Homo sapiens: one gene and its partner. Each later gene encodes a partner of the first gene's protein in a complex. Each region holds a gene or a part of one and is shown in the gene's direction. Other genes may lie near its edges.

What was found. The genes of interacting proteins can lie anywhere in the genome.
Region 2: UBE2J1 (region 1) and FAM8A1 share a complex: the UniProt entries of both Homo sapiens proteins name them as parts of the HRD1 complex.

The regions. Positions count from the first base shown.
Region 1 is NC_000006.12:89,339,014-89,342,761, reverse strand, and holds part of UBE2J1 (ubiquitin-conjugating enzyme E2 J1), read left to right. Parts: intron 1-306; coding exon 307-438; intron 439-3,748. UniProt on the Homo sapiens protein: Catalyzes the covalent attachment of ubiquitin to other proteins. Functions in the selective degradation of misfolded membrane proteins from the endoplasmic reticulum (ERAD) and is essential for cells to recover from ER stress.
Region 2 is NC_000006.12:17,598,664-17,602,411, forward strand, and holds the start of FAM8A1 (protein FAM8A1), read left to right. Parts: upstream 1-1,638; 5' UTR 1,639-1,746; coding exon 1,747-2,458; intron 2,459-3,748. UniProt on the Homo sapiens protein: Plays a role in the assembly of the HRD1 complex, a complex involved in the ubiquitin-proteasome-dependent process of ER-associated degradation (ERAD).

The DNA.
Region 1 (3,748 bases):
TTCAAGGATTAATTTCCAATTTAAACCTGTAAGTTACTTATGAATATATAACAACACTCAGAAATTTTTAATGTGTTTATTATAAAATATTTTAGCTCAATGGAACATGAAAGCTAGATTAAATAGCTTTTACTTATAAATTTAATTTATCACTTATAGTCTCGAGACATCTCATGCATTAGAAACTATACTAGCAATAATATAAAGCATTTAATTTTTCTTGCTTGGTAATATTTCTAATATTCAGATAAAATGATCAAACTTTTCAATATTATTAATTCCTTGTGGATTATTGTTTTTGTTCAGGATAACCTTTTTGAATGGCACTTCACGGTTAGAGGGCCCCCAGACTCCGATTTTGATGGAGGAGTTTATCACGGGCGGATAGTACTGCCACCAGAGTATCCCATGAAACCACCAAGCATTATTCTCCTAACGGTAAGAATTTTGGATTTTTAGAGTGCTTGTGGCTTCACTCTTCCTGGTAGCTGCAAAATATAGTAAGCAAATCATTTTCATTAAGAAATAATAGAACAGTATAATTTTGCTTTTGGGGTCCAGGCCCTGGGACTACAATTTTTTTCCTCCAAAATAATTCCTAGGAAGCTGATGCATCTGAGAAGTAAAAATGATACAACTGAATGCATAAATGTCATATCATGGTTGTTAGGATTCAATGAATTAATATATGCCAAGTGCTGGGCATACACATCTGGCACTTCATAAGTACTCACTAAAGGGTAGCTAATGTTATTGTACCTTGTAATCATATTGTCTCCTTTAACTTCCCACCTTTCTTACACTCTCTTCCTCAGTTTTCTCATCTTTACAATGAGAATAATGATACCTACCTCATTGAGTTTATGTGGGATGAAAAGTATCAAGATCTTATTGTATAGCTCTTAGAATAGAGCCTGACACAGAATACTCAATAAGTGTTAGCATTATTATTACTGTTTATATCTCAGATTTTCTCTCTTTCTCTCCAAATTTACACATCTTTTCTTCATGTGAAGGAAAACTTTTTTTTTTTTTTAAGAGACACGGTCTTTCTCTGTTGCCCAGGCTGGAGCGCAGTAGCACGATCATAGCTCACTGTAGCCTCAAACTCCTGGGCTCAAGCTATCCTCCCACCTCAGCCTCCTGAGTAGCTGGGACTATAGGCACATGCCACTGCACCCAGCTAATTAAAAAGTTTTTTGGTAGAGACATGGTCTCATTGGTCTTGAACTACTGGCCTCAGGCAGTCCTCCCATCTCAGCCTCCCAAAGTGCTAGGATGACAGGTGTCACCATCATACCTGGCCAAGGAAAACTATTGATCTAATTCCTCTTTAATTGTTAAGCTTTTCTTCTCTCATTTCCTTTAACTATGTTTAATTATCCCCTAACCTTGAAAAAAGCAAAAACAAACACAAAAACCATTCCCTGTATCTGTTATCACTTTAAGCTGTGCCTATTTTTCTCTTTGGTAACCTCCAAGGCATCCTTTCCGTAGTTTGGCCTGCTGCAGTCCACCTTCCACACATAGTGCCCTGTTGAAACATGAAACTACACCAATCTCAGAGACCAGTTTGAGAAATCTCACTGCTTCTCCTCAGCCTTCATCCTGTTCTCAGTTAAACATCTTACCCACACGGAGTAGCAAATGGTGAAACAACAGGTATTCATCAATAAATACCAAATTAGGCCGGGCGCGGTGGCTCACGCCTGTAATCCCAGCACTTTGGGAGGCCGAGGCGGGTGGATCATGAGGTCAGGAGATCGAGACCATCCTGGCTAACAAGGTGAAACCCCGTCTCTACTAAAAATACAAAAAATTAGCCGGGCGCGGTGGCGGGCGCCTGTAGTCCCAGCTACTCGGGAGGCTGAGGCAGGAGAATGGCGTGAACCCGGGAAGCGGAGCTTGCAGTGAGCCGAGATTGCGCCACTGCAGTCCGCAGTCCAGCCTGGGCGACAGAGCGAGACTCCATCTCAAAAAAAAAAAACATAAATAAATAAATAAATAAATAAATAAATACCAAATTAATGCTGCTTTTACCTCTATTTTGTATAACAGAGAGAACATTTGTTTAAGAGCCAATAGGCCTAGATTCTGACTGGTGCTCTTTCCATTACACTATGGGTGGGTTACACAATGTCTTTAAAATTGTTTTCTCATCAGTCAAAATGAATGTTGTGTTTGGTAATTGTAATCACACCATAAAGTACCTGACATATAGAAGCTGCTTAATAAGTATTAGCTGATATAGAGAACTGCTAATGCTGGCAGTAGAGTTGGAGCAGGGTCCTGGAGACACTCTACTGTGTCAGGAGTCATTTTATTTAGTTGCTAGATCATGGGGAGAGCTAAGTGGTCTTCGGGGAGGGAGGGGCTGGTGCATGGGGAGACTGGTGGTGGTGGAGGACAGTAGTTAGCAGCAGCTCTTTACCAACAAATACAGGTATATTTCAATAGTTAGCCAATGGTATGGTCATACTAACCACACTGGCTGAGAATCAGCCCTGATTTTCAACATTACACTCTTTCTGGTTCACTTCTTTTTTGAAAAGTCTTCTCCAACTTTCATTCAATAAGTATTTATTTATCCTTTCATTCATCACTCCTCTGAAAATCACACCTCTCTCAGAGCCTTTCTCCCCATGTCTTTCCTCACTAACATCTAGTTAGGTGATACTGAGTCCTTAGGTTTCGTCCTGGCCTCTTGAATGTCTTCTCTTTTAGATTCTTTTTTTTTTTTTAACTTGAGATAGGGTCTCACTCTGTCACCCAGGCTGGAGTCCAATAGCATGATCACAGCTCACTGCAGCCTTGATGTCCCACACTCAAATGATCCTCCCACGTCAGCCTCCTGAGTAGCTGAGACTATAGTCACACATACCACGCTTGGCTAAATTTTTTTTATTTTTATTTTTTGTAGAGACAGGGTTTCACTTTGTTGCCCAGGCTGGTCTCAAACTCCTGGCCTCAAGTGACCTTCCTACCTTAGCCTCCCAAGTGCTGGGATTACAGACATGAGTCACCATGCCTGGCCTCTTTTAGATTCTTAACTGAGCCTAGCTCCATACTAGGCACAGGGTAGGACATTAGTAAATCCTCTCCCCTCCCCTCCCCTCCCCCACTCCTTCCCTCCTCCCCTTCCCCCTCCCCTCTCCTTCCCCCCTCTCCTTCCCCCTTCCCCTCCCCACCCCTCTTCCCTCCCCATCCCTTCCCCCCTCCCCTCCCCACTTCCCTCCCTTCCCCCCTCCCCTCCCCTCTCTCCTCCCCCATCCCCTCTCCTCCCCCCTCCCCCCCTCTCCTCCCCTCCTCTCCTCTTTTTTTTTCTTTTCTTGGGGACAGGGTCTCACACTGTCACCCAGGCTGGCATGCAGCAATGCAGTCATAGTTCACTGTGGCCTTGAACTCCTGGGCTCAAGTAATCTTCCTGTCTTAGCCTCCCAAGTAGGTAGGACTAGAGGCACATGCCACCACTCCTGGCTAATTTTCTTTCTTTTCTTTTTTTGGTGACAGTGTCTCACTAAGTTGCTCAAGCTGGCCTTGAACTCCTGGCCTCAAGTGATCCTCCTGCCTCAGTCTCCCAGAGTGCTAGGATTACAGGCGTGAGCCACTTCGCTGGCCAGTAAAACTTTACATGTTAATTATTTAGATTTCACTTGTGCAACTCAGTTTCAAAAGGTGCTGTAAAACACCTTCTAAAAACAGCTTTTATTATTCAGCATCCAACAAGTATTTTTGGAGTCTATAAGGA
Region 2 (3,748 bases), about 72 Mb from region 1:
GATCGCACCATCGCACTCCAGCCTGGGCGACAAGAGCAAAACTCTGTCAAAAAAAAAAAAAGAAGGAAAAGAAAAATTATCTGACCTACCTTGTTTAACTGTTGTAGGCCACAGCCCCCATTCCAGAGGGTCCTGTTCCATACCCAGAAGGAATGAATGCTGCAGACAGGCCAAGGAGAATCCAGATAGGCCTTGCTGGGTTTCTTGCCTGTTTGCATCAGAGTGTTTTTTGTCCAGTCATTTTTTTTGAGACGGAGTCTCGCTCTGTCGCCCAGGCTGGAGTGCGGTGACGCAATCTCGGCTCACTGCAAGCTCCGCCTCCCGGGTTCACGCCATTCTCCTGCCTCAGCCTCCTGAGTAGCTGGGACTACAGGCGCCCGCCACCACGCCTGGCTAATTTTTAGTATTTTTAGTAGAGACGGGGTTTCACTGTGTTAGCCAGGATGGTCTCGATCTCCTGACCTTGTGATCCGCCCGCCTCAGCCTCCCAAAGTGCTGAGATTACAGGCGTGAGCCACCGCGCCCGGCCTTGTCCAGTCATTTTTTTATACGGCTGTCCATGCTTTGTTGAACCTAAGCATACAAATACACGATTTCCCTTGTTATCTTTGGGTCTTCATTCTGAAGGCTCCCGTGTCACATAAAACGATGGTCAAATCAATGTCTATGTCTTTTCTCCTATTAACTGCCTCCTGTCAGTGACTTTCAGCGAAACTTCAGAAGGTGAAGCGGAAGTTTTCCTTTGGCCCGGACAGCATCATCATTAATATCATTAATAAATATTCCCACAGTATTTGGCCCTTGTATGTCCTTTGTATGGTGCTGGGGATACAATAACATATCGCTGCAGAGATTTTCAAATGTAAAAGAAGAGAGATTATACTGATTTAAAAGCTAGATTCTGTCCTCACCCTGGAGCTAGTCTGCATTTACGAAAACTTACTTTCCACTGCGGTAGACAGACGCTTTCTACTCCAGCGCAACTGTGCCTTTCCTCAAATCTAGTCTCAAATTTAGGTTCCTTTTCATTTTCTGTTATGGAAAGGCCCTCAGCGTATCCCAGGCTTTGGAGCCTTTTGTTAGTAGTCTGGCCCATGCATAATTTCCCCTTCCTCTGAATTATACATAGCACCTCACTAGTTATATTTTAATACACTTTCCTATGTCTCAGTGGTAGTTTCCTATATTAATATATATCCCAGTTTAGTTTGGCTTTTAATTTCTTTTCTTCTAAGGGGATAGATGCGTTCTGTACCACCTTCTCGAGTACTAATGGTTAACTGGAATGAACACAAGCAACAAACCCTCCGGCCTGGATCCCAAAACAACAGTCGCGGTTCTGCAACAGAAAAGGCTGCGCTGGCCCTGGGACCTGTCTCGGAAATACTCCTCATCCATCTAGTTTCTCCCAGGACAACTAGGCCCAACCCCACGGGAATATACAGAGAGGCCTCGGGTCACAGACTTAAAGCTGTAAAAGGGAGGAGGCGACGGTCTGGTCCCAGTCACCGACCAGCCACCGACTACTAGGGCCCGAACCCGGGACTGCAGACGCACCTCCCCGCCCTCCCTTCCCAGCTCCGCCTGGCGGCGGGCGTTGCTCCTGAGGGGCGGGGCTTCCGCTTCCGGCGGGGGATTGTTGACGCCTGCGGTTGCTGCGGTGGTGACGGGGCTGTTGGGGAGGGGCCATTGGGGGAGGGAAACGGAGCAGTGACAGGTATCCCAGAGGGTGCTGCTGAGGCGACGATGGCCGAGGGGCCCGAGGAAGCCCGAGGCCACCCTCCCGGGCAGGACGATGGCGGAGGGGACCACGAGCCCGTCCCTTCCCTGAGAGGCCCTCCTACCACCGCCGTCCCATGCCCCCGCGACGACCCCCAGGCCGAACCCCAGGCCCCGGGCCGGCCCACAGCCCCGGGCCTCGCGGCTGCCGCCGCAGCCGACAAATTGGAGCCGCCGCGCGAGCTCAGGAAGCGCGGGGAGGCGGCCTCCGGCTCCGGTGCAGAGCTGCAGGAGCAGGCGGGCTGCGAGGCGCCCGAAGCCGCGGCGCCACGAGAGAGACCAGCTCGGCTGAGCGCCCGCGAGTACTCCCGGCAAGTGCACGAGTGGCTGTGGCAGTCCTACTGCGGCTACCTCACCTGGCACAGCGGCCTGGCCGCCTTCCCAGCCTACTGCAGCCCCCAGCCCTCCCCGCAGAGCTTCCCTTCGGGCGGCGCTGCAGTCCCCCAGGCCGCGGCGCCGCCGCCCCCGCAGCTGGGCTATTACAACCCCTTCTACTTCCTGAGCCCCGGGGCCGCGGGGCCTGACCCGCGGACAGCTGCCGGCATCAGCACCCCTGCTCCAGTCGCGGGCCTGGGACCCCGGGCTCCTCACGTGCAGGCGTCGGTCCGGGCCACTCCAGTGACGAGGGTAGGATCCGCAGCCCCTTCGCGAAGCCCGAGCGAGACCGGGCGACAGGCAGGTGAGAAGCGCGAGGTGGAGGCTGGGCGGAGTAGAAGGGTTTTCGGGGGCCTGTGGGGTAGAGCTGGCACGCTTTTTAGACCTGTAACTGCTGCTTCTACTCTGATTGACTATCCTGCCCGTTCAGTTCACTAGCTATCGTTTGTCCAGGCCCTAAATTCCCAAAATGTACAAGGAGGCAATACAGTTTCTTCTTCCTTTAGACCTGGCACTCCAAATTGACTCCCTTACTCATGGGACTAGTTGTTTATTCGTGAAAAGAAATTGCTCTTCAAACCATCCTCTTCCTTTGGTTTTCACGCTCTGCAGTGAGGGCCAAAGCTAAATTCGCAAATGGCAAACCCACTTTTGGAGGGGCTCGACTGGTAATGCTGAAAATTATTCAGACATTGGCTACTTAGGACAGTGGAACTGAACGGATATAAAAGGAGATCGACATGGATACAAGTGGAGTTAGGAAGTTTTGATTGGGTCAAAGCTTCACTTCATTTGATCAATATCTTGTATATTGTGTAATTGTTTTTGCTTCTGTGTGTGAACTAGAATATTTTGAATTAGTTACACTTCTTAGTTTACTATTTAAACTATTAGACTTTTAGTTTATTTTAGTTAGCCACAGATAGATGGGACAAGAACTAGTTGATGCCTCTGATCCCAGTCAGAATTTAGGATGACAGATTGATACTCACTGGGTTTATTTTAAAGAAAGCAAAACAAACTAAAAAACGGGTGGGGGGGGATTACAGGGATTTACTTTATACTAATTGCCAATATTTAACCTTGATTTGTACTAAAAAATGTTTAATTTTGTGTGACTTAGATGTGATCACCTGGATTCTCCTCATTAGAATTCCTAGTGAAATGTAGTGGGTACCCTAATCAAATTTATCTGTGAAATCAGTTTTCTAGGGGGAAAGTGGGGAGGGTGGGGACAAGGTCTGCTTCTATCGCCCAGCCTGGATAGTGCAGTGGCGATCTTGGCTCCCTGCAGCCTCCGCCTCCCAGGTTCAAGCCGTCCTGCCACCTCAGCTTCCCTAGTAGCTGGGACTAAAGGCATGCGCCACCACGCCCGGCTAATTTTTGTATTTTTTGTTGAGACGGGGTTTCGCCATGTTGGCCAGGGCCAGACTGGTCTCGAACTCCTGGCCTCAAGCAATCTGCCCGCCTCGGCCTCCTAAAGTGCTGGGATTACAGACGTGAGTCACTGCACCTGGCCGTGTGAAATCAATTTTTAAACGTTAAGGTGATGAAAGCAAACTTTAAGCTCAGTAAATAGTGGATTCTCTGTTAC